Homo sapiens: one gene and its partners. The protein of the gene in region 2 interacts with the protein of the main gene of each other region in a biochemical or structural test. Each region holds a gene or a part of one and is shown on either strand. Other genes may lie near its edges. The genes, in order: KIF1C, PTPN21, BMX and ERBB4.

What was found.
Region 1: the proteins of PTPN21 (region 2) and KIF1C form a complex in vitro, tested with the Homo sapiens proteins (one study listed by BioGRID).
Region 3: the proteins of PTPN21 (region 2) and BMX form a complex in vitro, tested with the Homo sapiens proteins (one study listed by BioGRID).
Region 4: of the proteins of PTPN21 (region 2) and ERBB4, one has a biochemical effect on the other in vitro, tested with the Homo sapiens proteins (one study listed by BioGRID).

Annotation. Positions count from the first base shown.
Region 1 is NC_000017.11:4,993,577-5,000,949, reverse strand, and holds the start of KIF1C (kinesin-like protein KIF1C), read right to left. Parts: upstream 3,001-7,373; 5' UTR 2,794-3,000; intron 1,938-2,793; exon of another isoform or gene 1,904-1,937; intron 1,101-1,903; 5' UTR 980-1,100; intron 731-979; 5' UTR 704-730; coding exon 598-703; intron 179-597; coding exon 102-178; intron 1-101. Other genes in the region: protein INCA1, read left to right, coding at 6,513-6,556. UniProt on the Homo sapiens protein: Motor required for the retrograde transport of Golgi vesicles to the endoplasmic reticulum. Has a microtubule plus end-directed motility.
Region 2 is NC_000014.9:88,551,410-88,559,511, reverse strand, and holds the start of PTPN21 (tyrosine-protein phosphatase non-receptor type 21), read left to right. Parts: upstream 1-4,816; 5' UTR 4,817-4,861; intron 4,862-7,959; exon of another isoform or gene 7,960-8,102. Other genes in the region: proline-rich protein 2-like, read left to right, coding at 2,722-2,749, 4,452-4,816.
Region 3 is NC_000023.11:15,503,131-15,511,270, forward strand, and holds part of BMX (cytoplasmic tyrosine-protein kinase BMX), read left to right. Parts: intron 1-4,177; exon of another isoform or gene 4,178-4,279; intron 4,280-5,214; 5' UTR 5,215-5,223; coding exon 5,224-5,361; intron 5,362-6,198; coding exon 6,199-6,303; intron 6,304-8,140. UniProt on the Homo sapiens protein: Non-receptor tyrosine kinase that plays central but diverse modulatory roles in various signaling processes involved in the regulation of actin reorganization, cell migration, cell proliferation and survival, cell adhesion, and apoptosis.
Region 4 is NC_000002.12:211,380,097-211,388,236, reverse strand, and holds part of ERBB4 (receptor tyrosine-protein kinase erbB-4 isoform JM-a/CYT-1 precursor), read left to right. Parts: intron 1-244; coding exon 245-292; intron 293-1,086; coding exon 1,087-1,384; intron 1,385-4,176; coding exon 4,177-4,622; 3' UTR 4,623-8,140. UniProt on the Homo sapiens protein: Tyrosine-protein kinase that plays an essential role as cell surface receptor for neuregulins and EGF family members and regulates development of the heart, the central nervous system and the mammary gland, gene transcription, cell proliferation, differentiation, migration and apoptosis.

The DNA of each region.
Region 1 (7,373 bases), on a different chromosome or scaffold from region 2:
GACTAATCCCCTGGGGGTCCTATTTCTTAACATGTCCCCTCCCCAGGACCTAAATCCTCTGTCTCTCACTGCCTTGCTCTTCCCCCAGCCCAACAACCCACCGAAGTGTGTGACCAGTAGGAGTAGTCAAAGGTGAAGCTTTTGGGGGCATCCTTGCTCTGTTTAGGATTGATGATGGCTGAGGGGCAGGAGAGGGTAAAGGAAGGAAAGTCAAGGTCAGGTATTCCCAGTCCCTGCCCATACCCCAACCAGCCCCTGGAATCCAAGCATCCCACTCCTCACCACTGTCCTGACTCTTCTCTCCCCTTTAACATTCCCCACCCCCTCCAGCCACCAAAGCTAATTTTGGCTTCCTAGGACCCGCCCCCACTGAGCTGCCTCCCTGGATTGGGCAATGGAGGGCTCCAGGCCAACATTCCCCCTCCCAGGGACTGGGAACACGGGAAAGGCCAGCCTGCCCCAGCCCCCGCCCTTACGACTAGCACCTGCTCTGTGCCCAGCATTACCCTCCTCTTAGTTTGGCCCAGCGGGACTGGCCTGTGTGGTGGGCCCGGCCTTCCCTGCCTGTGCCCAGCCAGGCCCCGGGGACTCACTCACAGGTGGTGTTGCCCTGCATGCTGACCACACACTTGGCATCCTGGCTGGTCTCACGGGCGTTAAAGGGCCGAACCCTCACTGCCACTTTCACCGAGGCACCAGCCATAGCTCCAGACACTCCTGCCCTCCTCAGCTGGAGGACAGAGAAAGGAGTGGTGGGGTCAGAACCACTGCAGGGACCCAGACATTGCCTCCCAGCTTCTTCCCGGAACCAGTCTCTTCACATCTCCCCCAGAGCCACCCAGCCTCTCAAGGACCCAGCTCTTATTCCCTTGGCTTTCCTCCCAAATGTCACTGTCTTGAGAGACTCCCAAAGGTATTTCTGCCTCTCTCCCCAGCCATATTCCAGCTTGCAGGAACCTGGGCGGTCTCCCCCAGTTACCTGGCGTCCTGGCCCCAGACCAGGGGGGCTGTATCAGTTCTGGCTGCCACCGGCCCTCGTAGGGGGAGCCCCATCCTACTCCTGGGGCCTGGCCACACCAGCTGGGGCTCTGGGAGATACCCTGATTGCGGGGGAAGAGTTGTTAGAAGGCACCTGTGGTTCCAGAGACCCGTCTGGGGTTCCCAGGTTGGAGGGCCAAGGTTACGGGGGGAATAGCAGGAAAAGTACGGACAGCTGCCCCTCTAGAGTGGCTGAATGCAATGTGAATCCAAGGGCAGGGACGGTGATATTTTTATTCCTTGTCACTCGCAAATGTACTGAACGTTCAGATAGAGGACAGAGAGAGAAAGAGGCTGGACAGAGGGCAATTCAGAGAGAGGGGCACATGGGCAGAGACGTGAGGGGGGTGGGAAGAGAGAGAGGAGGGGCAGAGAGTCACAGACACCAAGAAAATTAGAGAAATAAGACAAAAGGCAAGCCTGAGGTCATGCTATGAAGGAAAGAATGGGAGAGGAAAGGAGGAAGAGACACAGCACAGCAAACACACGGTGTTAAAGAGACAGGGTGGGGAACTCCGGCGCCAAAGCACAAACTGGGAGCCCAGAAGAGAGACCAGAGAGGAAACTGCAAATGCAAAACCTGTCCTCAAATTCCCCCACAGTGTCGGCAAGGGAGAATCTAGTTTCCACCTGAGGCCCACAACCTCCATGCACCAGGCCAGTAGTGCAGATGGGCAAAGTCCAAGGACTGTAGGTAGGGCCCAGGACTGGGATCCACAGGGCCAGCTGTGTGGGCTCTAAGCCCCTTGCCCAGCCCCCAGCACTTCCTCCTCAGGATCCGGGACAATGAGCAGGGGAGGGTGGGGTCATCCTGTAGCCATCAGACCAACCCTCAGGGCTCCACCCTTGGGGCGCCCAGAAATACCTGTGTTTGAGGGTAGAGGGTCCCTGGGGCCTCCCTAAAAGGGAGAAAGAAAAGGAAGCCGGCTGGCTGGTGCCAGCCCCAACCTGGGGCTAGTGCTATGGCGTCCACTGCCCTGGGGAAGGTGCCAGGCTGGAGCCCAGGAATGTGGGTGATCGGGTGCCCACACCCTGGGAGGAGAGGCTGAGCAGCCCACGCCCACGGACAACAGGGAGGAGGACCACGAAGGATAAGGGATGCGGAGCCCCCTCCTGTGGCCCCAGTGGACCCCAAACTCCTGTCACGCTGGGCCTCCCCTCACCAGTCTTCCTGGGCAGAGCATGGGAGGGTGAGGGGCTGGTCTGTCCCAGGACAGGAAGGGAGTAGCTGGAATCACAGAAGCTGGCTCAGGAAGAACAGCCCTGACCCCCTAGACCCTGACCAGGGGAGGGAAGGACACTGGTGGGGACAAGCGATGGTGACGCCGTTGCTGCAGCTAATGGGACAGGGATGGGGTGGCACGGCTGGGGGCCAGCGGGGTAAGGGAATAGAGGTAGGGACAGGGGTCGGCCGGTGCAGCTGTGAAGGAGCCGTGGGGTACAAGGAGGATACTGGGCGGCTGGGGTGGGGCCGACCGGCCCGAAAGGGGGTCTTGGGCCACCTGCACCTTGCCCACCCGGCGGTTCTCACACAGGTCCCCGCCCGGCCTCTCAGGGCGGCCATGCGGACCCGTCCTCCTGTCCAGCCAGCCGGCGGCCGCCCGGGCCTGGCACCTCTCTGCGCCTCCGCGGAACAAACAGCACATGATCCCGACTCTTGAGCCTAGATCGCGCCGCCGGACCCCGGCTCCCCGCCCCCCAACCCGGCACATTCCTCCGCGGGCGTCCCTTCCCTCCCCCTTCCCCAGCCCTCACCTCGGCGCGGCGGGGCTCCCGGAGCAGCTCGGCGGAGAGGGACAAGCTTTCCGGGAAGCGTGAGGCGGAAGCGGGAAGGATCTGGGGCCGGTTCGGAGCTGCCCCCGCCCCTCGCCGGGTGCCCGGGCGGCGGGCGGCGGACTCGCGCCCCGGGGGCGGCAGCAGTAGCGGCGCCAGCGGCCGGCGCCCGCCCGGGCAGCGCGAGCTGGGGCGGGAGCGAGGGGCGGGGGACGCGCGAGCGCGCGCGGAGGGGCGGGTACGCGCGGTCCCGGGAAGGAGCCGGGAGCGACCCGGGCTACTCTTGTTAAAGGGGCAACGCTCCTGGCCTGTGGGGCCCAGCGAGCGGGAACGTGGGGACCGAGCTGCGGACGCAGAAGGGCGAGCAGACGCCGCAACCCAGGAGGGTTGCAGACGCCTGAAGAACAGGGAAACGTCGGGGGCTGACCCGCGGGGGCACCCAGGCCCCGGCCCAGTTCCCGTCGCCGCCGTTGGAGGCGCGTCCAGGGGGCGGAGCCTCCTGCCGAGGCCCGCCCAGAAGGTGGCTCCGCTCAGGCCCCGCCCTCAGACGAGCACCGCCCGCCGGCTCCTCCCGCGGCTCGAATCGCCGTCTCTCTCCTCCCCGCCCCGCCGAGTTCTAGAATTCGCCGCGCAGCTGCTTCAGGTGCTGGGGCCAAATGCGGCCGGCCGTGGCGCGGCTACTCGGGCGCTCTGTCCCCGCCTGGCCCTCAAGTTCGGCCGCCCTGGACGCCGCCTGAGGCCCAAACAACCCCTTCAGGCCCGGGTGCCGCCTAAGGCCGGAGCTGCCCTCTCAGACCCGGGGCGTCCCTCAGGCCCCAGCCTGCCCTTCAGCCTGGGCCCACCACCTCAGGGCCCCTCTCGAGGGAAGCAGCCCCCAGTCGTGCCCTCGGGCGGGGCTGCCCGGAAGGTCCGGCCACGCCCGGTCCACCTGTCGAGGGTCCCCGTCGCCCTTTCAGGCGCAGGCCGCGCCCTCCGGCCCGGCGCTTCCCTCCAGCGGGGCTCCAGGCAGCCCCTCAGCCCCAGCCGGACCCTCGGGTCCTCATCCACCCTCGCAGGCGCAGGCCGTGGCTACCCCGAAGTCAACTGTGGAGGATCCTTCCTGGCTTCCTTCAGCTCCATCCTGCCCTTGGATCTAGGTCACCCGCTTGGACCCAACTATCTGAGGCCCGAATGCCCCGCAGCTCCCGCTGCTCCCTCGCGTTCTGCTGACCCCCCTCCGAGTCAGGACATCCCCTTTAGACCCCACTTTAGGCCCTTTCAGCCCAACTCCAACTAGCCCCATCTGCCGCTTCCGCACGGTATACTTCTCTCCGCTTTTGACCTCACCTGCTTTCCCAGCCCATCCCTAGTTCCCTTGGATAAATACTAGTTCACCTCTACAGTTCCAGCTGGCTGCTTCTGTCCTTCGGGAGCCTATGTGCACTCTCTCCTAACTTATCTAGTATTCTTTTTTTTTTTTTTTTTTTTTTTTTGAGACGGAGTCTTGCTCTGTTGCCCAGGCTGACCTCGGCTCACGGCAACCTCCGCCTCCTGGGTTCAAGCGATTCTCCTGCCTCAGCCTCCCGAATAGCTGGGATTACAGATGCCTGCCACCACACCCGGCTAATTTTTGTATTTTTAGTAGAGACTGGGTTTCGCTGTGTTGGCCAGGCTGGTCTCGAACTCCTGACCTCAAGTGATCCGCCCACCTCAGCCTCCCAAAGTGCTGGGATTACAGTCTTGAGCCACCGCGCCTGGCTTTTTTTTTTTTCTTCTTAGAAACAGGGTCTCACTCTGACGCCTAGGCTGGAGTGCAGTGCAGTGGTGCGATCTTACCTCACTGCAGCCTTGACCTCCCGGGCTCAGATGACACTCCCACCTCAGCCTTCCGGGTACAAGCGCACACCACCACACCTGGCTAAACTTTTTCGTATTTTGGTAAAGAGGGGGTTTCGCCATGTTGCCCAGGCTGGTCTCAAACTCCTGGGCTCGAGCAATCCACCCACTTCCGCCTCCCAAATTGCTGGGATTACAGGCGTGAGCCAGTGTGCCCAGCCTTAACTGCCCTTTCTCCCCACCCCAACTGGCCTTCAGGTCATCTTTGGCTGTCCCTATATGCAACTGACCTCCCTATCCACAGGCATTCCCAACTGCCCCCTCCTTCCCTGTCACCAGTTGACCATTATGTCCACACTTAACTTTTTTTAATTTCTTTTTTTATTTTGTTAGAGACAGAGTTTCACTCTTGTTGCACAGACTGGAGTGCAATGGCGCGATCTCAACTCACCGCAACCTCTGCCTCCCTGGTTCAAGCAATTCTCCTGCCTCAGCCTCCTGAGTAGCTGGGATTACAGGCATGTGCCACCATGCCCGGCTAATTTTTGTATTTTTTAGTAGAGACAGGGTTTCTCCATGTTGGTCAGACTGGTCTCGAACTCCCGACCTCAGGTGATCCACCCGCCTCAGCCTCCCAAAGTGCTGGGATTACAGGCGTGAGCCACCACACCCAGCCAACTTTTTTTTTTTAAATAGAGATGACGTCTCTCTGTATTGCCCAGGCTGGTCTCCAACTCCTGAGCTCAGGCAATTCTCTTGCCCCAGCCCCGCAAAGTGCTGGGATTACAGGTGTGAGCCACTGCACCCGGCCCACACAATTAACTTTCACTAACCACTCATAGTTGATTCATTGAGAACCCTCAATTCTGTCACTTCTCTTACCCCCAAATGCCTCCACCCCACCCAGTCTCCACTGTCATCATTTTTCAATTTCATTGTCCCATATTGCCAGTTGTCGCTTAACTGCCATCTGTAAATTTCACTTATTCTGCACATTTAGCTTCAGAAGATTTGCTTTCTCCTTTATCTTTTTACCACATCCACTTTTCCTGTGCTCACTATCTTCAACCTAAATGTTCAATTAACAGTCCAGCACTACAAATACCTTTTTTTTTTTTTTGAGACAGAGTCTTGCTCTGTTGCCAGTCTGGAGTGCAGTGGTGCAATTTCAGCTCACTGCAACTTCCTACTCCCTGGTTCAAGTGATTCTTCTGCCTCAGCCTCCGGAGTAGCTGGGATTACAGGCATGCGCCACCATGCCCAGCTAATTTTGTATTTTTAGTAGAGACGGGGTTTCTCCATGTTGGTCAGACTGGTCTCGAACTCCCAACCTCAGGTGATCTGCCTGCCTCGGCCTCCCAAAGGGCTGGGATTACAGGCATAAGCCACTGCGCCCAGCCGCTACAAATACCTTTTAAGCTCTCTCTTTTTTCAGCATCCATACATTCTTTTTCCATTCTCTAGATCTGCTACTGGCCTCATCCCTACAGACATTATATGAATGAATGCCTTTTTTTTTTTTTTTTTTTTTTTTGAGACAGAGTCTTGCTCTGTCCCCCAGGCTGGAGTGCAGTGGCGCGATCTCGGCTCACTGCAACCTCCGCCTCCCAGGTTCAAGCGATTCTTCTGCCTCAGCTTTCTGGGTAGCTGGGACTATAGGCGCGCGCCACCACACCCGACTAATGTTTGTATTTTTAGCAGAGATGGGGTTTCACTATATTGGCCAGGCTGGTCTTGAACTCCTGACCTCATGATCCGCCCGCCTTGGCCTCCAAAAGTACTGGGATTACAGGCGTGAGCCACCACATCCAGCCCGAATGAATGACTTCTTTTCCATTATCCTCCCAGCACCAAAAAGGAGACTAACTACCCAGCCCCGTCCAGTCATGCAGGTGCAGGATGATGGAGTCAACCTCATCCCCTTTGCCAAGTGAGTCCTCCCACTGGGTGGGGAGCATGGGGATGGGATGGAGGGGATATTGCATGCCTGGGTCCTTCCCTAAGAGGATTAGGAAATAAAGAACGGGAAATGCAATGCCTGGTCTCAGGGGATTGATGATTCATTAATTTATTCAACAAATAGTTTGAACACTACAATGTTCCAGGGACTGTATTAGGCACTGGGGATTCAGCAACTAGCAGGATAGGGGTCCTGCTCTTGTAGAGCTTACATTCTAGAGAGGGGAACACAGAATGTGCAAACAAATACAATTTCAGCTAATGATGGGTACTATTTAAAACATAAAACAGTGGGCCAGGTGTGGTGGCTCACTCCTGTAATCCCAGCACTTTGGGAGGCCGAGGCAGGCGGATCACCTGAGATCAGGAGTTCGAGACCAGCCTGGCCAACATGACAAAACCCCATCTCTACTAGAAATACAAAAATTAGCCAGGCATGGTGGTGCTCGCCTGTAATCCCAGCTACTTGGGAGGCTGAGGCATGAGAATTGCTTGAACCCAGGAGGCAGGGGTTGCAGTGAGCCAAGATTGTGCCACTGCACTCCAGCCTGGGCGACAGAACAAGACTCCATCTCAAAAAAAAAAAAAAAAAAAAAAGGCCAGGCACGGTGGCTCACACCTGTAATCCCAGCACTTTGGGAGGCCGAGGTGGGTGGATCACGAGGTCAGGAGATCAAGACCATCCTGGCTAACAAAGTGAAACTCGTGTCTACTAAAAATACAAAAAAATTAGCCGGGTGTGGTGGCGGGCGCCTGTAGTCCCAGCTACTCGGGAGGCTGAGGCAGGA
Region 2 (8,102 bases):
TGTATTTTTAGTAAAGACAGGGTTTCACCACGTTGGCCAGGATGGCCTTGCTCTCTTGACCTCATGATCCGCCTACCTCGACCTCCCAAAGTGCTGGGTGTGAGCCACCGTGCCAGGCCCAAAGCTTTGCTTTTCTTTGAGTACTCAGTCAACCTTTTTTTGTCAGCCTTTTGAGTCTGCTTTTCCAGACTCAAGCAGAAGCTGATCACAGTGATTAACGAGACATTACCAGTCCATTCAGACTATAAAGTATAACCATGTATAAATTTCCTCACCTACTACAATTACATATTCATCTGTTGTTCACATGGTGAGTCTTTGAGGACAGGGGTATGCATCTATTTACCTTTCTCCTTGCAGCACCTGGCTTCTAAATATATGTGGGCTGAATGGACAAGTGTTTTCCAATAGTGATTATCACATGGCATAGACATACTTGGATCAAAAGCCCTAAGTGTTGGGAATTACAGTCACAGCAGTCACTTGCTACTGAGGCAGACATGCTTCTCCATTTCAACAAACACACTGCCAAGATAATCATTTCTCTGATGTCCAGGGGAATCTATCCATAAAATGGTTGCTCTTTTGCAACTGAAAAGGTGTTGCATGTGACACAGTATTGAGTGTGGTAGGCAGAACTTAAGGTGCAGATTCAGAGACCGAAGACTTCACATTTCTATTTTTTTTTTTTTTTTTTTTTGAGACGGAGTCTGGCGCTTGTCCCCCAGGCTGGAGTGCAATGGCGCGATCTCGGCACACTGCAACCTCCATCTCCCGGGTTCAAGCGATTCTCCTGCCTCAGCCTCCCAAGTAGCTGGGACTACAGGCGCCCTCCACCACACCCGGCTAAATTTTGTATTTTTAGTAGAGACAGGGTTTCATCACGTTGGCCAGGCTGGTCTCGAACTCCTGACCTCGTGATCCGCCCGCCTCGGCCTCCCAAAGTGCTGGGATTACAGGCGTGAGCCACCGCGCCTGGCCACACATTTCTAGTTCTAGCCCTCACTGTCCCCTTCCTCAGGGATCATCTTTTTTTTTTTTTTTTGAGACAGCGTCTCACTCTATCACCCACGCTGGAGTGCAGTGGTGCGATCTCGGCTCACTGCAATCTCCGCCTACTGGGTTCAAGCGATTCTCCTGCCTCAGCCTCCTGAGTAGCTGGGACTACAGGCGTGTGCCACCTGCCCGGCTAATTTTTTTTTTGAGACGGAGTCTCGCTCTGTCGCCCAGGCTGGAGTGCAGTTATGCGATCTCGGCTCACTGCAAGCTCCGCCTCCCGGGTTCACGCCATTCTCTTGCCTCAGCCTCCCAAGTAGCTGGGACTACAGGTGCCCACCACCATGCCTGGCTAATTTTTTATATTTTTAGTAGAGATGGGGTTTCACCGTGTTAGCCAGCATGGTCTCAATCTCCTGACCTTGTGATCTGCCCACCTTGACCTCTCAAAGTGCTGGAATTACAGGCGTGAGTCACCGTGCCGGGCGTAATTTTTGTATTTTTTTAGTAGAGACGGGGTTTCACCATATTGGCCAGGCTGGTTCCGAACTCCTGACCTCGTGATCCACCCGCCTCGGCCTCCCAAAGTGCTGGGATTACAGGCGTGAGCCACCGCGCCCAGACAGGAATCATTATCTTTGCGTGGCAGGGCATTCATTCAATTTGGATTTTTGCAGATGATGATAATTTATACGGTGGGTATTCACCATGCTATCAAAACAGATTAACTTTTGAACTTCTAAGAAAACACTAGTCAGTGCACCCACCAAACCACAATTTCCTTTCCTTTTTTTTTTTTTTTTTTGAGACAGAGTCTTGCTCTGTCACACAGTCTGGAGTGCAGTGGCGTGATCTTGGCTCGCCACAACCTGTGCCTCCTGGGCTCAAGCGATTCTCATGCCTCAACCTCCCCAGTAGCTGGGACTACAGGCATGCTCTACCACGCCCAGCTAATTTTTGTATTTTTAGTAGAGACGGGGTTTCTTCATGTTGGCTAGGCTGATCTCGAAATCCTGACCTCAGCTGATCTGCCCTCCTAGGCTTCCCAAAGTGCTGGAATTACAGGCATAAGCTACTGCACCCAGCCTTCTTTCATCTTTTTGTCTTTCATCATTTTATGTGCTGGGCTTTCTTTTTACATTTTATTTATTTTAGTAAGAAATAACTTCCAGTGTAAAAGTATGTGTAAGTATGCCACCTTCTGGATAACAAGAGGGGGTAAAGATACTTATATGTAGTTTCTTGTAACTCTGCAGAACATCTTTGTAAGGATACAGAGGAATGAGGGAACACTGGTTACCTCCCAGGAGAAGAGCTGGGTGTCTAGCAGGCAGGGTGAGAAGGGGACTTTTTACTTACACCCTTTTGTATCTTTGGGGGTGGCACCATATAAATTATCTCACTTCCTTAGATATGCAACACAAGCTAATAATTTTATGTCTAATATTTTGAAGGTGTTATTCAAGTGCCTTCCCATGAATGTTCCTGCCAAATTAACATAGCTGAGGGAAAATAGGGCTTAGGTACTTGGTCAGTAAATGACATCTGTGGACTGTGAGGGAGGAAGTTCAACTCAGTTGTCTAACATCTCTTGGGTTTTATGGTCATTTTCTATTTTTAAAATTCTTTTATTTTCTTCCTGATTCAATTAACAAGTTTTTATTTAGTGCCTACTCTTTGCCCAGTACTGTCCTAGGAATCCTAGGAGATATAAAAGAAGCCGTCATGAAACAACTTTTACAGTTCTTGCCAAGTGTGGAGATCACTGTGGAATGGTGTGGCTAGAAAGTCATCCTGGAAGCAGAGTCTTACTTGCAGAGAAGCAGAAGGCTTAGACAAGTGGAAAGAGGGCAGGAGGGGCTGCTGGCCAGGGGCAAAGCTTGACAGGGGCAGAAAGCGATATAGGTGGTCAGAGAGGCCCGTTTGGAAAGTCCCTATAGGTCAGGCAGAAGAACTTAACCTTGGGAGTCCATTAAGAGTGATAAGAGAAGGAAGCCTGGTATTAGCAAGGAAATAAGAGAGAACTGAGAAACCAGATGCCAGGAGACCACCCTTGTTGCAATAATCCGGATGTAAAATGATGAGGGTTTGGATTTAGAATGTTCCAGGGGGAACAGAAAGGAAACAAAGAATTCATGAGACATTTCAAAGGAGGAAATACCAGGTCTTGATGACAGGCTGGAGATGATAATGGGAGAAGTCACACATGATTCCAGTTTTTCTACCTTGGGAAGCCAGCAAAGTGACTTCTTTTTAGATCTCTTTTCTTTGCTCACACACAAATTGACCCCCTCATAGAGTTCAGTTGAAATATCAATTACAAACAGAATTGATCTATTTTTTTTCCCTTAGAAACACAGGTAATCTTATTTGCCTTTAGCTAAACGACCCAAGATGCACCTTGCTGGGCTTTGCTCTTGGATAGCACTCATACCTCTATGACAATGCTCCCCACTTTGGCCTTGTACTGCGTGTGTGGTGTGCAGGTGCGTTTATCACCCACTAAACCAAAAGTCCGTGTTGTGCAGGGACCACGTCTCATGCAGAGTTAAGTATTCAAAAGTTTTTGTTAATTGTTTAAGAAAATGAGATTTACATGAAACAATACTTTAAAAAGCTTTCCAGAAACAACAGCATTAAAACAAAATCACTGAAATTAAAATTTACATAAATTAAAAGGTTCTGTGTTCCACATGCCAAGAAAAGATCTTACACTATTGTAATAGTGGTAGGGTCACACAGTTTTATTCCTCAGCTTAAGTGCTGCAATACAGTAATAATGCAGTACAAGAATACTGTATAATAAACCTTAAACGAAACACTTCATATATACTTTACACAAGTTATTGGATATTGCTTAGTATTTATTTCCCCCACCCCTGCTGTGCAAAGATATTAATATCCCTCTTTTATAGGAGAGGAAACAGGTAAAGAGAAGTTAAGAAACTTGCACAAGGTCATCCAGCTAGTAAATGTTGGAGCTGGGATTTGACAACTTTGTCAAGTCTCCATCCTTAACAGTTCTGCTCTATATTGCATAAGCAGACAGCTCCCTTTTGGGGACTGACAGGTTATTTGAGGCATATGAACCATTTTTGGTGGGGGGGCTTTCCCACCCAGTACTGGAAGTGTCTAGTTATATGGGGCATAACCTTAGGAGCAAGCAGGAAAAGAAGAAATGTATTCCAATAGTGTTCAGAAATATACCAGAGTAAACGAATAACCATCAATAACAGCATTTTACAGCCTACCTAATAACACAGGAATAAAACCCTTTATCTGGAACCTAAATAATACCCCCTCCACTCATTTTATTAAAAGCCTTGCTTTATTTGGAAACTCTTAAAATAAGTGGTCATACGATTAAAAAAAGCAGCGGCGCGCCCCCTCCCCGGCGGCCGGGCGCAGCTGTCCGCGCCTCCCCCGCGCGGCTGCCCGCATTCCAACTCTCTGAGGTCACGGGCCGCCGCCGCCTCCCCGGATCCGCCCGCCCGGCTCAGGGGGAGGGACGCCTGGGCCCGGCCGCCCCGCTGCTCCGGCCGCGCGTCCCGCGTCGGTCCGACGGTCTGTCCGTCCTCCTGCCACCCCCCGCCCCCACGGGGCTTCTTTGTGCGGCGCTCCTCGCCGGCCGGTCCCACCTCCAGGCCTCGCCCCTCGCCGTCGCCACCGCCGGACTCTGCCCAGGGGAATGGTCTGCGAGCCGGGTTTTTGGAGACAGGAAGTGAGGCGTGCGAGCCCCATGAGCGCGCCGCGGCCCGGGCTGGCGTGCGGGTGCGGCTGCGGCGGCCGCGCGGCGGGGCCCCGGGAGGCGGGTCGCTGAGCGGGGCGCGCGGCCCCGAGGATGCGGGAGCGGGAGCGGGAGCAGGTGAGGGCGCGGTCCCCGGCCGGCGGGAGGGGCGGGCGGCTGGCCCGAGCGGTGGGGTGTGTCCACTCGCCCGGACCCCGGAGCGCGCCCGCGGCCCCGGAATCCCGGAGAATGGGGCGCGGCGGCCAGACCCGTAGCGGGAGCGTAACAAAGAGAAAAGTCTTGTTTTTCAGGTTCGCTCTCATATACTTGAGTAATTTCTAAAAGGAGTCTTGAACTTCTATTCCGAACGCCCTGGCCGATTGTTGCGGGTTAATTCTGGATCAGGGTTTTAAATGTGTTAGGCATATTTGTGCCTCTCAGAATATATAAACGTGAAATTCGCCAGATAACTTTGGCGAGAAGGGGCGCAGGGAAGGACTGTTTGGTAACGCCTGGGTTTGTTTTTGGAGTAGAGTATTTACTCTGGAAACAAGAATTCTTGGATCTGCAAATTCCGACTTGTGATTTCTGCAAATCCTGATTAGATTGGCCGCTCTTGGCATGCTCGTCCTATTTTCTTTTTTGCTGAGAAAGCCTTATACTAATAGCGTATGCTCACAAACACATTCAGAACATTCGTGTGCTCCAAGTGACAACTGCTGTATGCCTAATAGTTGCTGACAGTTTATTTATTTTTTTAAGTTTGGGACACGACAGTAATTTTACTCTGAATATAGTCCGTTTCGTTTCTAGGGCATTTTATTCTGGAGCATCTACGCACAGATGTTTTCTCCGTGAGAAACATGGGTTTAATGCTATAGCTATAGATATTACTCTAAAAATGTCACATACTCTCTCCTTTTAGTGCTTATTTTATTTTAAAGCAACTTTGGCAAAATTACATGTGGTAAGGACCTTAATAGGAAAGGGGAAACGCTGTAAGATTGAGAGGTAAAGTGTATTTGAGGAACTTTTGGAAAGGGTTGTAGAGAGGGAAAATTAAAATGAATTCACAAATAGTTCAGACTGCCTTTTGTAAACTTGTACTGAAGCAGAATCTAGTATGTATCTGTTTACTTACCACAAAACGGAAAGATTTTGTAGAGAAAAAATTATATCCTAGTTTTCCTTTAATAGCTATTTATAAATTATGTTTACTTTAGTAAATTATAATTCCAGACCCAATCACTTTCATATTATTGCATATTATTTTATACCTGAAACAGACCTCCCCAAAGAACTCTTAAATTTCTACTCATCTTGGTTTTATTATCTTCAGACATTCATAATTGTATTACACCATTTGGCAACAAATACTGCATATTACTGAAAATTAAGATGTATAAATCATTGATAAATTTGTAAATTATTAAACAAAATCATTGTTTTAACATAGTGGGTTTTATATAAATAAGCAAAAAGCAAGCCATTCTTATGGATAGATCTTGGGGGGATGCACCATGTACACACACACTGCAACTTTTTCAATTTCATCTACCAAAATAAGAGATAATTTTGACTTTTCCTTTATCCCTGATGCAGTAATACATTTCAAGTCTGAGGGACAATTGAAAGTTTTACTGAGTTTGCTTAATCAGAGCTTAAGTTAATAATTAAGTTATACAGTGTAGTATCTATTGCTTTCAAGGCATAGTTCTATGTAGTGAAAAGACTACCATATTTGAATGGCACCTAATACAAATATTTATCTTTCCTCTACACATATGCAATATCTTGTCTGTTCATCTACACTACTTAATCCGCCCGGTTTCCAGTTACCATAATTTTTATGTAAAATTGAAACCCACCATCTGATCTCATGAAAGGGTGTTTAGTATGCATATTTATAATCCTTAAATATTTACTCTTGGTTTATCAATTTTCTAGTTAAAAGCTTATTATTTAAAGTTGTCATTTGCTAATTTTTTTCCATCTTGCTTTACTTATTTAGTTTATACCCCTGAAACAGCAAAGAGCATTGAAAACTACTGGAAGTGGAAACCATATCTTTTAATACTTATTTTCTGTTTCCCTCCATAGTATGGTGCTTTTACCTACAGAAGGCACTCAGCAAATGCGGTTAATTAACACAGTGCTTTAGGTAGTTGCAGCGTTGTTTTTTTCTTCTGGCCTTCCCCTATCCCTTGTTTTTAATATTTTGATTTTCCTGGCTATGGGAAATAACCAGAGCTCAAAACAAACAAAAAAACTAGCCAGATAAAACCGTGGTTGGGTCCTTATTAGAGATACAGCTCTGTATGTAATTATAGCATGGTTGTAATCTCTTTAAAGACAGCGACGGTTTAGGGATTCGTCTTAGATTTCTCACGATGCTCATTACGCTGTCTTGTTCCCAGAGACGCAATACACATTTGTGGAATGGAATTTCAAAATGTTAAGTTTGGCAAAGCCGAGGGTAGTAGCGGAACCCTTTTCTCCAGGTCTGCCATTCCCTAACCCTAAGTGCCCCATCACCTCTGGGCCTGAGACGCAGTCAGGAGAGCAGGACCCAGGAGAGGACTGGGACTGTGGAATTTGGGATCGATTCCCAGCTCAGCCCGTCCTAGCGTGAAACTGCGAAAGCCGCTTCTCTTCCTGAAGCCTGGGTTCTGTCTGCCAGATGAGAGGGTCGGGAATAGATCTTGCCTCTCCGCGCGGTCCCGGGCCGGAACTCAGCGTAGCCAGCTATGGCTGGGTCTCGCTAAGCGATTCATCCCCAACAGGCAATCTCTGCGCAGAAGGAAGGTAGGGAACCGTCTCAGGACCCTGGAAATGTCCGGGATTTTGTAGACTCGTTTAGGGGGAAAAAACTAATCCAGCTGATATAAAAATCCCCAGCTAGTGCTCGCCCCAGAAACCATCAACAGGTCTGGTTAAAAACTGTTAGAGCCCGGCTTGGTGGCGCGCACCTGTGGTCCCAGCTACTCGGGAGGTTGAGGCGGGAGGATCGCTTGAGCCCAGGTGTTCGAGGCTGCGGTGAGCTACGATGGCGCCACTGCACTCCAGCCTGGGTGGCATAGCGAGACTTCGCTCTATAAAACACGTTGTAAGGAGCGTATTTTGAGGTCCTGTGGCTCCAAAGCGGGCATCCTATGGGGCCCGCCCAACCTCTCCACCGCCAGTAGGGCACGCGCTGGTCCCTTTAAATGTTCCCTTCGGGAGCCGAGGGACCGGTCCTTTTAGAGCGCGTCCGTCCAGAAACGCGGCTGCAGAAAGAGGGTTCCGGGGCCTCCGAGTCTACTGGTTGGCCTGGCAACGCCGCGTGCTCTTCCCAAGGGGAGGACGCGGGAGAAGCCGGGGCCTGAGTGCTCCAAGGCCC
Region 3 (8,140 bases), on a different chromosome or scaffold from region 2:
CCTGGTTGAGGGAACTATCCAATGGCCACTTAACTAGATAACCCTGTCTCCCTTGGTATCCTGTTTCCTGCTCCCCTTCTGTACCACTGAGAATTTATTCCAACTTTTGAGGTTGTATGTTCTTACCTATTTTCAGAATGTGGTTTCAAATTTTGCTATTTAACACTGCCTTTCAGCAGGAGATTCCTATCGAAAGATTATAGGTAACATCTTTCTGATATTTCCAATAAAATGTCTCTTGCACTGGTCTGTTAAGACTCAGATTTATGGGTAGTTTCACCAAACTATGTCCCTTAGCAAAGCTGTAGTATGTTTGGCTGAACACACAGATATCTCCTACTCTGTTTACTGCCATCATGGAGTGGATGGTGTACAGGTATGACACCTGAAGCTGGCTCCCAGGGCCATGCCTCTTAGGTCACTGGTTAACAGTACTGGCTAAGTCACTTAGGCTGCTGGGGCTCAGTGTTACATCTGTAAAATGACTTCTAGGTTTCTTATAAGATTTGACATCCTATGACTGCCTTCCTGTATTTAGGTTAGAGCAGTCTCTGGTTTAGGAGGGTCACACAGCAGGCATGTCCTTCTCTAGCATTAGTAGCGTGGTCACGAATATGGGATGTGGAGTTAGACTGCCGGGATTCAAATCTAGCTCCACCCACTAGCAGTGTGACCTGGGCAATTTATTTATCTATTGCAGCTCCATAAGCTATAAGCAGGGAATGATGTTACAACTTACTCTATAGGGTGAATGTGTCACAACCTATCCCATGGGCTGGGAGTATCACAAAATATCCCATAGGGTGGGGGTGTTCTGGCCTACCCCATAAGGTGGAGGTGTCATGAGCTACCCCATAGAGCAGTTGTGACCAGTAAACTCTAAACAGCCTGGCACATAGTGAGCCCTCCTTAAGCATTGGCTAGGATCATTATCATAAAATCACTCTCATCCTTCAAAGTCTAATTTCAATGTGCTCCCTTCTAAAATACCTTACTTGGCTACCTTAAGGAAAAAACAACTTTTCCTTCCTTGGACCTTTCATAGCAAAGTGAATAGACTCTACTCTAGCACCTACATTTTTTTCCCCATCTTTTCTTTTTTAAAACATAGTTGGTACCCACAATGTGCCAAATACTTTCACCATAAGGTTTCTCATTTAAGTCCCGTAAAGTAAGAGAGTTGTTACCTATCTCAATTTACAGATCAGAAAACTGAAGGTTAGTGCAGGGAAGGGGCTTGGCCAGGGTGACACAGTTTACAAATGACAGTTCTGTAACCTCCTCCATGCCTTCCGAGTCTGCCACCCCACAGCAATCTTTCATATTAATTAGTTATGCAGCCCATCTCTCAAACTTGTTCATTGTCACTCAGGGCCACGGACAGCTGATCTTTATTTCTGGAACCAGTCACTCAATGTTGGACACACTGTAGGCTCAAAATCAAGCATGCCAAATAGAACTGCCGACTTGAACTTCTTACTCTCATGACATCATTTCCTTATAAATCCTAAAAAACTATAGTGATTATAAGTCATGTTAATTCAACACACACCTTTTATGTATGTAAGAGGTTAACGAATGGCTGCTGGCTTCCTTATAGGAAATACTATATTGATTTCTGCCAGGTTTTTGTGTCTCCTCTGTGCCTTAATCACTTTCTAGTTTCATCTGTTTATGGAAATAGGCAGCCTGGGCTATTTGGTAAGCAAATTGATAGGTCTATTCTATGTGGGTGGTAATATGAGAGTCCACCCAGATCCCACTAGCTCTTCTATGGAAATAGATTTCTTGTTAATACTGACTGGGTTTAGGATCTCATTTTACTATAAAAGGTTTTTTGTTTCACCTTCCCAACTGAATTTTCCCTAAATAAGCATAAGAAGAGCAGGGTTTGCTAGTTGTTGGACAGGCATTTGACTTAACAGTAAGCCCTGTTTATTTATTGTCACAATACGAGGGGGGAAGATATTGCATTTCTAAAAATTAATCATCAGCAACTATCCTTCTATATCAAGAGAGACCACAGAAATGTTTTCAAATTAGAATTTAGGCCATGTAGAGGAGAAAGGAGAAGTATAAGGAAGGGACAGAAGTAAATAGAAGGAGAAAGGCAAGCCCAAGCCTGAGCAGAAACCACATGGTTTATCTTAGAAGAAACTGATCTGGAAATGAAAAAAGCTTGAGTCATCAAGGTGGGGTCCTTCAAGACTGTTAGGAAGCCTCAGTAGCCCAGCTTAGGGAGTGGAGCTTTGAAGGACTGTTCCTCTTGGATGGGTACCTCAAAAACGTGTGGCTTCAGGTGTTTGTTACACGAGAACAACATATTACGGACTCAAGTGCACAGTATGTGAACCCATCTTTGAGAAAATAAGCATATGTACATAAATATTTGAAAAGAAAAACATCTAGAGATGTGCTGTGTTTTTCTTTTCCCTGTCTGTATCTCTTGGCTTTATAGAATAAACATATATTGCATATGAATCTTAAAATGAAAGCAAAAAATGTATAAAGGGCAGGATTTTGAAATGAACAATTATGTTGAAATTTCACAAGTTATATTTCATCAGATGCAACAACGCTTGTAAACCCTTGGAGGTTTACTGGAGAAGGTGCTTGAGGGCTCAATACCTTCCTTTTTACTCAATGTTCTTCCTTTCAATACACAGAGGCAACTTTGTGAATTTGTCAGTGGTCTCTGTGACTCATCTTATTAATTTTTTATATAAAATTCCAAAAATTCTCACCTTTAGTGTGATGCACATAAAAGTTTTATTTTTCTTTTCTTCTTCTTTCTTTATTATTATTAATTTTTTTTGGAAGACAGGGTCTCACTCTATCGCCCAGGCTGGAGTGCAGTGGCGTGATCCTCCTGCCTCAGCCTCCCTAGTAGCTGGGACTACAGGTGCATGCCACCATGTCTGCTAATTTGTCAAAAAAATTTTCTAGAGACAGGATCTCACTATGTTTCCCAGGCTGGTCTCAAACTTCTGACCTCAAGCGATTCTCCCTCCTCAGCCTCCTAATGTGCAATATGCTGGGGTTACAGGCATGAGACACTGTGCCCTGCCTAGGTGTGAAAGTTCTATAGACAGAAAAATATGTATACCAGCACATAGTACTGGGAAAGACTGAATAGCACCTTGGACATTGGGATTTTTACATTTTTAATACAGTGTTGTTAATGTCACAAATCAATTCAGCATCTAAAAAAATTAAAAAGTAAATTTTCTATTCAACTAATCAGATCTATTTAATTAGCACTCTGCTTTGAGGAATGATGTTTCAGCTGTGGATATAAAAAATTGACAAGAGTTTTCACAGTTTTCTCCTTCTGCTTCATTAGTAAAATACGGAAATATAAAAGGCAAAAGTACCCTACAACCATGTCCAATGTGATATTGCCTCCCCAAAGGAGGCTTTCACTCAAAAAAAGTAGACCCTCATTGTTTCCATAAGTCTCCGAGCAAATTCTCTTCCGGCCACAGACTTTGGATGTAGAAAATAAGCTTATCTGGGCAGGTGGATATGCAGAGTTTGCAATGGAAGCAAAGATAAAAGGAAGGCATGCTACTCTTACCTCCATAGGCTCTACTCTACCCTGATCTCTGCCCTGTCTTTGATCACTGGGCAAAGAAACCAGTGACCATGGCAAATAGTACCCATTGTACTCAGAAGAAACCCATTATACTTTTGTGAAAGAATTATCCTTTTTAAATAGCTAAAACAATATCCCAGGGAAAAAGTAACCAAGACTTTATTATATTGAATGGATAAGATTTCCACTACTTCTGTCTAAAAATCAAATAATGCCCTTGGAGGACATTTTAGGAATTAATAAATAATCTTTTGTTCTACATAGTAAATAATAAAAGCTGGTTTTCTTAATTCCACTTTGAGAGTTGTGTGGTCTATGTTAGGAGGAAAGCTGGCTGGAGCCAACCATGGTTAATTCAATGCCAGGCTGTATTTCTTAGTCTCCCTTTCATTTCACTCTTCTGCCATAGTGGGTCCATCATACTCCCAGGCCAGTGAGAAGTGCCCTCTAGTGATTGGATGGGTTCGCTTGGCGCCCGCCTCCATGCAGACAGAGCAATGCCTGTGTGGGTGCTTCCTGATCAAGACTGATGAGTGGGATGCAAATATCTTCTTTTTAATGCATGACCCTGGCATAGCCAGAGGGAATATGAGTGATGGTGCCTCAAAGCAGTAACTTTTTGCTTAGAGCTTGAGAGTCAAAGTTAAGGACCCACATGTATACTTCGGCTCTAGCGAGTCTAAGGTGAGTAAAGCCTTCAGATTATCAATAAAGAAAGATTTTAACTATTGGGCATGTGAATTCAAATAACGATGCAATTTCACAAAGCAAAGAAGAACATAAGAAAGTTTGTTTCTCTGGCCTACTGCTCAACATTGCTACTTTTCATGATCAGACCTGATATTAGACTGAGGGTTGAAGTAACTGTCTTAGTAGAATTAGAAAATTAATGCATTTATTTTTCAGAAATACCTTAAGTTTTAATGTTTTACATGATTTTGGGATAAAAAGGAAGAGTCTTTTTACTTTGTAAATGTACTCATTTTTTCAGTTCTTTTAAATCTCTTTTGATAGCATCTGTTAGTGCACCCTCATACATTTTCCTCATTTTATCTTATCTTAGGCATTTACTTTGATTTTAAATTCTCATAGATATTGAAAATTATACCTGTGTAATTTATGTTAAAGATCTGGCCATGATCAGGGGCTGCAGGTGTTATTTACAATAATGTCAGTGTCTCATAGTGGTTTGGGTAATTTGGTCAAATTACAGGCCGTTACTTCATAAATTGTGAGCTGTCTGGAGTTAAATTTTCTGAAGTTTTATTATATCCAATTCAATTCAACCAACACATATAGAATGTTTAAAAAGTAAGGAGCATTTTGATAAGGTGGTCTGGAGAATGGGGCAAAGATGATGAATTTATTATCCACAGTGGGAGGAGTCAAAAGTATAAAGTGCTTTTTAAAAATCAACATATTTATAAAACCCAAAGCAAAGGCAGCAGAAAAACTGTAGCTATTGTGTAATTTATTCTATAATCCTACATCAGTCTCATTTATTAAAATCAGCATTTATATTATCCCTTAATAGGAAATCGTTGAGGAAAAGATATGAAGGTTAAAGAGAACTTACCTAGATGCTGCAAATACTCATTTTAATTATTTATTTTGTTTAGGATGATAATATGGATACAAAATCTATTCTAGAAGAACTTCTTCTCAAAAGATCACAGCAAAAGAAGAAAATGTCACCAAATAATTACAAAGAACGGCTTTTTGTTTTGACCAAAACAAACCTTTCCTACTATGAATATGACAAAATGGTGAGACATCATGTGTTCCATTATTTTTATACTATTTATTATTTTTCCTAAGTCTCCACAAAGTACTTGATCATAATGAAAGAATATCAGGTTTCTTAACTTACACTGTGAAGATCCTCTTCTATCCACTTATCACATGACCTTTTCTTAATGAAAGTATAATGAATTCAAGATAAAGGATTTTAAAACATTAGTTAACTTTACTAAGGCAAATTATAACTTTAGAACAGTGGTTCTCAACTGAGGGCATTTTTGCTCCCCAGGTGACATTGGGAAAAGACTGGAGATATTTTGGGTTGTTCCAACTGGGGGATAGGAACAGTAAGTGTTAAAGACATCTAGTGAGTAGAGGCCAAGAATGCAGCTAACCATCCTGCAGTGCACAGGACAGTCCTCACAACAAAGAATTACCCAGCCTTAAATGGCAATAGTGCCTTAAAACAATGCTAGAAATAAGACTATTCCTGTACAGTTGAGAATTCTACTATAGTAAAAACACTGAAATACTGTCATAAGACTGAGCCAAAATGAAGATGCTTTGCAGAAGTTAAATCTTGATTTTCCTGAGTATATTAACCACATGGTAGGTGATTTGAAACACATTTCAAGATAATCAAACAAGATTATTAACCACTGGAATATATGTGTTTGTGTCCAGACTCAAGGAATAGATTATGTTGTCATTGGATTTTGACTATTACGGGGTAATAGGAAGTGACTCTCCATTGCCCACCCCCCACCCCAATCTCCCTCTCAGGCATAACTTGGGCTTTATGCCTTTCCTTGTGCACCATGATGTATTGCAGGAAGTATCTTACATTTTGTTTTTTAATTCAGAAAAGGGGCAGCAGAAAAGGATCCATTGAAATTAAGAAAATCAGATGTGTGGAGAAAGTAAATCTCGAGGAGCAGACGCCTGTAGAGAGACAGTACCCATTTCAGGTAAAGGGAAGAACGACATTGCATTGGGTGGATAGTTCTTCCTTCAATTTTTCTATCGTGAACTCAATATATCTAGGAAAAATAATGATATTTCAAAATAATCTAAACAAGGCTTGGAATATTCCCACATGGGAGTTGGGCATTTTGCTAAAATTCTGTCCACCAATCTGCCTTCCCTGGAGGGAAGGGAAGGGAAGCAAGACAGGAGCGTAAGTCGCAGTGACCTGACCTGCCTCAGGTCTGATCATCTCTTTTAACAAACATTGCTGAGTATCTCCGATGTGGTACACAGTAGTAGGCATACTATGGGGAACAAAACACTGCCCCTACCCCAAGGCATTTACAGGGAAGTGGCAAAATAGACTAATACACAGACCATTACAAAGCAGTGAGGGTGAGAGTTAAGGTGGAGGTCAGCAGAATGCATCCATGGAGTCCCAGGATGTGGAAGTTTCATTCCTCACTCCAAGAGGCTAGAGAGATATTCTATTGGAGGTGACACTCAAGTTGAGAAGGACAAGTAAAATTTAACCCAGCAAATATGAGAAGGACAGTGGTACAAAGGAAGCAGCAGGTGTCAAGGCACTGATGAGTGAAACAGTATGACACATTTAGAGAGCACTAAGTAGTCCCTATGAATAAAGAAGCCCATGTGACAGTGAAAGAGATAGCCTGGAGAGGTGACCATGCTAAGGAGTTTTCATTTTACCCTGAAGTATTTTAAACAATGGTATGGTATGTAGTGTATGCTGGTAGTACCTTTTGGAAGTGGCCTAATCTAAGTCATGCCCTACTTTTCTTATAGCATAAAATCTTACATTTCTGATCCAAAGGTAGATGGATTGTCTTTCAGATGGCCTGACTACCCAGTGCTAGTATTAGGAACCTGTGGCCAAAAATGAAATACAATAATCCAGTTGATTAACAACCCATACTTCCCATTTGGAAAAAATATTACCAGGCCAGGCACAGTGGTTCATGACTGTAATCCCAGCACTTTGGGAGGCCAAGGAGGGAGGATCACTTAAGGCTGGGAGTTCAAGACTAGCCTGGGCAACATAGCGAGACCTCATCTCTACATAAACATTGTTTTCATTAAAAAAATTACCCAATTGGGGGAAACCAGGGGAGGGCATGCTCATGGAAGATGCTGCAAACTCACCTCATAGAGGCATAGTGCTCAAAAGATCACAGGCTTTGGAGCCCCCAGAGAGTTCCTAGTTCCACCACTTATACTTGTGCAACTGTAAACACATACTCAACTTCTATTTCTCACAGAGTTGAAATAAGATTAAAATACTGAAGTAGCTAGGAAAGAGCCCAGCAACTAGTAAGTGTTTAACAAATGCTGTGTATATTTACCAACAAGAGTTGAATAAACTAGAGAAGGATCTGGAGAAGATATTGTAATCTTCAAACGTTTAAACATTTGTCTTAAGAAACAGAAAAGTATATATTCTGGAGATTCCTGGGGTGCCACATGATGAAATAGATGAAAGTAACAGGGAAACATATTTTTACTCAATGTAAGTATGAACTGTATAATGATCAGAATATATGGATATTGGCAGAGATGACATAGCAGAGTAAAGAACATTCCATCCCTGAAGGTATTTTTAAAGATAGAGCAGTTAAACATTTTCCAGTGGGCTGTAAGGAAATCATGCACTGGGTAGGCAAATGGACCAGAACAATACTAAGACACGTGTAATGTCTAACATATTAATGTCCATAGTCCAGGGTGTCCCTGATGAGAACTCAGTGTTCACCACTACTATGAGGTACATCATCGCTGTAATTTTCCAAAGTATAGGAGTGTCTGGGATAAAACAAATTG
Region 4 (8,140 bases), on a different chromosome or scaffold from region 2:
TTTTCTGTACAATTTTCCTTTTCAGGGATTGAATTAAAATATTTATTTTCCTCAAAACATATAAATAAGCTTGCTTATGGTCAGAATGCATACAATTGTGCTGCTTAGGAAGCTTCACTGTTGTGCACTTTTTCCCCTTTGGTTCATACGACCCATGTGGCTTTTCTTTTTCGTTTCTTTTTTTAATTTTTTCATTCATATTGCCTCTTATTATATCCATCATTCCATTTTTCTTTCCTATTAGAGTGAAATTGGACACAGCCCTCCTCCTGCCTACACCCCCATGTCAGGAGTAAGTATTTCACAATCAACCTTCATCTTTTAGGATTTTCGGTCTTTGCTTACCATGTTTCCTCTCTCGTCTCTGCATAATTTCCTCATTTTGCCTTTGCCAACAGTGAGTTAAGAATTTGGTGTACATCGTGTAGCTGCCTTTGTAGATGTGTTTTTATCTCAGCTGATAATCCGAAATTGAGATATCATGCATCAACAGTAGCTTTCAATTTTTATCTGAAGGATTTACCTGGGCACATAAATTATGCTTCTGGATGTGGAGGTGATCTTTACTTCCCTGATTATTGGTCATGTACTAAAAAGTCAGAATTATAGTGATGATCCTCTAGTTAGGTACTAGAGCCTCAAATTCATAATAACCACAGAATTTTCGAAGGGAATAAAGACATAGGATTATTCAAAATATATCCATGTACTTCTATTCTTAATGACAACTGTCTATAATTAATGACACTTGCATTTATCATAAAAATTCACTTTGAAATTTGTATTAAATATAGGCACTTGTGGGAAAAGGGCATCAAATACATTTTATTAGAATATGTTTCAGTTGGTTAATAAAACTAGAATGTGTATTTCAAAATTATTTTCTGATGATTTATCTTTTAAGAAAAGTGGAAATTTTAGGTGTTTATAGTTTGTAACTCCATTAGCCACTAGGGGAAAAAAAACCAGTAAATACTATGACTATTCTCTGAAAGACTGGCTTTGATATCCTTGTGGCTATTAACATTCATTTTTAAACTATTTCTAACAACGCCTTCTCTCCACATATGTTTCTCTTATTAACAGAACCAGTTTGTATACCGAGATGGAGGTTTTGCTGCTGAACAAGGAGTGTCTGTGCCCTACAGAGCCCCAACTAGCACAATTCCAGAAGCTCCTGTGGCACAGGGTGCTACTGCTGAGATTTTTGATGACTCCTGCTGTAATGGCACCCTACGCAAGCCAGTGGCACCCCATGTCCAAGAGGACAGTAGCACCCAGAGGTACAGTGCTGACCCCACCGTGTTTGCCCCAGAACGGAGCCCACGAGGAGAGCTGGATGAGGAAGGTTACATGACTCCTATGCGAGACAAACCCAAACAAGGTATGAACTGATTATTCAGAAACGATCGCCATTCGAAGTTCACTTCCATCAAGATAAACAAAGTACAGAATAGAAATTGCCAGATAGCTGACCAGCACAACATTTGTGATCCAGTAAAGGCCTAGGCTACTGCTACTTGTAGTATGGTCCCTGAATCAGCAGCATCCACATTATTTATTATTATTTATATAAATCAGAATCTCAGGCAGGCCCCGTCTGAATAGGAATCTGGATTTTAACAAGATCCCCAGGCTATCTGCATACAGCAATCAGTCTTGAGAAGCACTATTCTAAACATATTTTGTTGAAATATTTGAATGAAGTAGCATACTACAAAGTGTCAGGACCATAGCTTTATTGGACTTAATTGCGGAGATCAGAAAGACTGGTATTGTTGGCAAAAGTGCCTGATGCTTTTGATGGCACTAATAAAAGATTTGTTTGACTCATTTAAATGATGACATTTAAACAACCTAGTTTATTATAGGAAAATATTATGTTCTTATATGACGTTTTTCAAAAATTAAAGGTTTGACCCTGTATATACTTACAAGCATACCACCAAGATTTGAAAATAATAATCTGTGGTTTTACAAAGCATAACAATAATTTTGTAAAGTTAGTAGTAGAAATGTTAAGCACCCAAATCAAATAATGCTTCAATTTTGCAACAAAACAGCCTTTCTTCTTCTATGCTAACAGTATCACAACAGAGAAGATAGATGATTGTTATTAAAAAATGATGATCATGTCTCTCGCAGTCTTTAGTGTCAACAGTAAACTACATTTTAAGACTCTGAGAAGGGCCTGGTATATGGTTATGTTCTCTCCTTTAAAGTAAAATTTAGAGATCTCTAATTGTAAATAACCTTTTAAAATATATCTGTCTAGATAAAATTTTTACATATCTAAAACTTCTATACATATAAAAATGTAATGAAGAGTTTGGATGCTCATAGTAGCCTAGTAATGACACAAATGTAGACGTTGTGAAGACTTGGCAGATTCACCCCAAAGAAGAATCTTTTCTGGGGAGATTTTCACTCCAACCGTAAAGTTATTGGACAGCTATATAAGTTTGCATGAGGACAATATATAAGTAGATTGCATTGAGGAAAGGTAAGGTGAAGAGAAAAGCAAGTCACCCTATAGAGTCACACTGTATTCTCAGATTTTATCTCTGAACACTAAGCTCCGTTTCTATAAAAGGTTGCTATAGTCTAACCTCGTACTCAGAGAGTACAGAATTTTAGTGTAGACATTCCTATTCTTTCAATTAAGAAGTTTAAGGAATCTGGTAAGAGAGACCAAATTCTGCATTCCTTATAAATGTTTTCATACACTTGTCAAATTAAAACTTGTTACTAAGCATAAAGTTCACCCAACTCCTGCAGGGGCAATAATAAAAAACAGTGCAGTAGAATAAGAAGATTATGCAAGAGGAGTTAGAAGACCTGAATTCTATCCCAACACTAATTGTATCCTGCACACATCATTTAATCTCATTTTTCTGTCTACAAAGCTGGAAAAATAAGTCTTGTACTTCTTTTTCACAGAATTGGGAGGATGAAATGATAGTGTCTTGTAAAGGCCTATATATGATAGTGGGATATTCATTACTGCCCTTTAAGTTGAATAAATGATGCTAAATACTTACCTATTCTGTATATATATATTTGGAGAAAAATAATCCTCACTTAATAGGATTTTTCTCTCTACTTATTGGGCTAAGGATAAAAGACAGAAAGTTTGTTTCAGAATGGCCTCTCAACAAAGAATTGTGCCCTCTTCATGCCTTGAATTCAAAATAGGAATAGCTTAGGGCTTTGTGTATATAGTAAAAGAGAGGACTGTCAGAGGACTTACAATACATGCGTGTTTATGTCTATGTGCAGTCTATATTATAGACATAGATGTGGAATTAAGCTTCAGGAGAATGGTGATAATTATTAGCACCTTTTAGGCCAATACCTATACTAGATGGATTTATTAGATTGATCCGTACAAAATAGGCACTAATTGACTGGTTTCAATATACAAAATTTATTTTATTTTATATAATTCAAGCTGATAGTTTGCTACTTTGTGATTATGATTGGTCAATGGAAATATTATAATTATACTTTACTATTAAGTAGAAGTATATGTAATGTCAAGCAGGTCAACTAGAGGCATGTTAGCTATCTGTTAGATTTGCTTTTTTAGTTGAATTTTTTTCCTTTGATGCTTTCTTTTCCATGTGTAAAACCTTTTTCAGAAGCATCTCCAATTAAATCCTTGTTACCAGTATAGGCAATCATAGCAAACCATAGAGACTAAAAAACATGATTTCTTCACTCCATCTATTCATCTTGGCATGGAACTCAGCTATAGATTCTTGTTTTTTCAATATCCTTTATAGAAGTTAAGTTGTCTGTATATTTAAAGACTATTTAATCCTAATAGGTAGTCTTATTTCCTAATATAAATAACTTTTAGAAAACAAAAACATTGAAACAACCAGCCCCATATGCAGAAGAGACAAATGCAATTAGAAAGAAAGAAAAATTTAGGAGATAGAAATTCTGATTCTGGCCTCGTTGGCTTCTTGTTTTATTATAAACATTTTTGACCCACTTACTCTTTTTTTCATAAGACAATGGTGATCCACAAATACTTGTTGTGAGAAATCATGAAAACAAATCTGTGGGTTTTTTTGTTCTAGACAAAGAAGCTAACCATTATGTATAACCTTGGTCTGATTAATATTTTCCAGAAACTAGAGGTTAGCTGATATTTTTTTATTCCTTTAGAATACCTGAATCCAGTGGAGGAGAACCCTTTTGTTTCTCGGAGAAAAAATGGAGACCTTCAAGCATTGGATAATCCCGAATATCACAATGCATCCAATGGTCCACCCAAGGCCGAGGATGAGTATGTGAATGAGCCACTGTACCTCAACACCTTTGCCAACACCTTGGGAAAAGCTGAGTACCTGAAGAACAACATACTGTCAATGCCAGAGAAGGCCAAGAAAGCGTTTGACAACCCTGACTACTGGAACCACAGCCTGCCACCTCGGAGCACCCTTCAGCACCCAGACTACCTGCAGGAGTACAGCACAAAATATTTTTATAAACAGAATGGGCGGATCCGGCCTATTGTGGCAGAGAATCCTGAATACCTCTCTGAGTTCTCCCTGAAGCCAGGCACTGTGCTGCCGCCTCCACCTTACAGACACCGGAATACTGTGGTGTAAGCTCAGTTGTGGTTTTTTAGGTGGAGAGACACACCTGCTCCAATTTCCCCACCCCCCTCTCTTTCTCTGGTGGTCTTCCTTCTACCCCAAGGCCAGTAGTTTTGACACTTCCCAGTGGAAGATACAGAGATGCAATGATAGTTATGTGCTTACCTAACTTGAACATTAGAGGGAAAGACTGAAAGAGAAAGATAGGAGGAACCACAATGTTTCTTCATTTCTCTGCATGGGTTGGTCAGGAGAATGAAACAGCTAGAGAAGGACCAGAAAATGTAAGGCAATGCTGCCTACTATCAAACTAGCTGTCACTTTTTTTCTTTTTCTTTTTCTTTCTTTGTTTCTTTCTTCCTCTTCTTTTTTTTTTTTTTTTTTAAAGCAGATGGTTGAAACACCCATGCTATCTGTTCCTATCTGCAGGAACTGATGTGTGCATATTTAGCATCCCTGGAAATCATAATAAAGTTTCCATTAGAACAAAAGAATAACATTTTCTATAACATATGATGGTGTCTGAAATTGAGAATCCAGTTTCTTTCCCCAGCAGTTTCTGTCCTAGCAAGTAAGAATGGCCAACTCAACTTTCATAATTTAAAAATCTCCATTAAAGTTATAACTAGTAATTATGTTTTCAACACTTTTTGGTTTTTTTCATTTTGTTTTGCTCTGACCGATTCCTTTATATTTGCTCCCCTATTTTTGGCTTTAATTTCTAATTGCAAAGATGTTTACATCAAAGCTTCTTCACAGAATTTAAGCAAGAAATATTTTAATATAGTGAAATGGCCACTACTTTAAGTATACAATCTTTAAAATAAGAAAGGGAGGCTAATATTTTTCATGCTATCAAATTATCTTCACCCTCATCCTTTACATTTTTCAACATTTTTTTTTCTCCATAAATGACACTACTTGATAGGCCGTTGGTTGTCTGAAGAGTAGAAGGGAAACTAAGAGACAGTTCTCTGTGGTTCAGGAAAACTACTGATACTTTCAGGGGTGGCCCAATGAGGGAATCCATTGAACTGGAAGAAACACACTGGATTGGGTATGTCTACCTGGCAGATACTCAGAAATGTAGTTTGCACTTAAGCTGTAATTTTATTTGTTCTTTTTCTGAACTCCATTTTGGATTTTGAATCAAGCAATATGGAAGCAACCAGCAAATTAACTAATTTAAGTACATTTTTAAAAAAAGAGCTAAGATAAAGACTGTGGAAATGCCAAACCAAGCAAATTAGGAACCTTGCAACGGTATCCAGGGACTATGATGAGAGGCCAGCACATTATCTTCATATGTCACCTTTGCTACGCAAGGAAATTTGTTCAGTTCGTATACTTCGTAAGAAGGAATGCGAGTAAGGATTGGCTTGAATTCCATGGAATTTCTAGTATGAGACTATTTATATGAAGTAGAAGGTAACTCTTTGCACATAAATTGGTATAATAAAAAGAAAAACACAAACATTCAAAGCTTAGGGATAGGTCCTTGGGTCAAAAGTTGTAAATAAATGTGAAACATCTTCTCATGCAATTATTTTATTATCCAACACACTAATCTTTTGATACTTTATATAATTCCCTTTCTTCATATACTGCATCCAGTACTAGAACCATCATTATTATGTATCATTTTGAAAGAATACCTGATGAGATGAAGGATGAGAACAAATGACAGAGATGAGTCTCCAAGTAAAGGGGGCCTCACATCAATAATTAGGAAACTTAGATATAAGTCGCCCTTTTCTGAAAATTCTACCCCAAGTCATTTAGATTTTTAAAAAATATTTCTAATGTTAAAATATTGGGACCAAATTAGAATCAATAGTATAAGATTAATTAATTAGAGTAAAAATATCTATTAAGGCAGAGAAAGTTTAGAGAAAAAAATCCAAAGAAATTTGTGTTTCTTCCTATTCTGAACAAGTAAATCCATCCATCCATCCATCCAAACCTCCTTTATCTAACTGTGTCTACTAAAAGCACCATGTTTTGTGGGGAACACTCAGATAAATGGAATATCATCCTCAACTTCAAAATTCTATGATCTAGGAGATTTAATTAAAATGACATTTTAATTTTTCTATGCGTTCCAACAATCAGATTGCATAGTCTCTTTTGTGAATAGCTGTCATATAATCAGTTGTACTGTAAGATATCTCCTTTAAACTCATTTGGGATATAAGTTAAACATCCTTCAAATTGTTGATGTTGACAAACAGGATAATTTCAATAATATTATTCAAACATAAACTGGTCTAGGAGAATATTGCATCACTGACTAATTAGCCTATCTAGAGTCTAACTTCACCATTAAACCAAAAGCAGATGGTGGTCCTTGGCCAAGAATATTGGAGACATTGGAGTTGGTTTTTTTCTAAGCTATAAGAAGTGAGGCGAGCTGAAAAAGTATGGTAGAGCAGGAGAAGGGTTTGTGAGATTCCTTCTAGTGAAGTTCACCCTCAAACTTTTCAGGGGTAAAGACACAGAGTGATTCAGGGGCCACAATCTAATAGCTCAGGGCTCTCCTATCCATTCAGAGAAGTCTCTAGGAAAAGGGATCTCATATCAGTACTTATGAAAAATTGAATATAAGCCTCCCTTTCTAAATAAATCTGCATCGAGTCATCACAGCCCTCTTTTTGGATACTATACCTTGATTTTTTTTTTCTGATTTACAATATGCATATGGTTTCTACTGGGCTATAGAAAGCAGAATCACTCATTTTGGAGAAGGAAAAAATGAATAGTTAAAACAAACTTTTAACTGTTAAGGTAACAGAAATGTATTTAGTGAATGTCTCTTTCCTCCTAAGAACACAAGACTTCTACATGTTGGGTAATACCTAGAGATGCATGTAGGAATAATCCAAAATGACCCAAATGCTTTATAATAGCACCACTTTATAATTCTTTTGAATGATTTCTGTAGTATATAATTGACTTCAGTTGTTTGAGTGTTTTTTGTTTTATTTTTGTCCCCCCTGGGAAAACATATTTCAGCATGTATAAGAGGGAGAAAAAAAGTTTCATTCCTTCCAGAGAATAACTTATTTAGTCCAGTAGGGTAGAATTTTAAAATGTCAGTTAAAGTCTTCAAAGTGCTTGGGGGGATATCAGATTCCAGAGGCCAATTGTAGCAATTGAAATTTGCAGAATCAATTATGTAAATCTGAGACAAATTAGTATTAAAATTACACGGAGTATATTTTTTAAATCACCCAACTTTGTAGATTATACCTATTTTGGGCAGGTATGGAAAAATTTTGCAGTTAAATGATTGCCTAAAGAAAGTGGTAAACAGGTGAGGAAAGATGGCCTCTGATCTAGGATAGATCCAGAACCACAAAGCATCTGCACCACAAAAGGTGTTAGACTACCAAGCAGCTCCTGGTTTTCTGCATAGTATTAGTAGCACAGCTTAGGATGAGAATCCTTTCTCCAGTAACATTCTTAAAATAGCATGAAAAACAACGCAAAACTCAAATTTCTATTAAAACACACAAACTAAAATCAAGTGA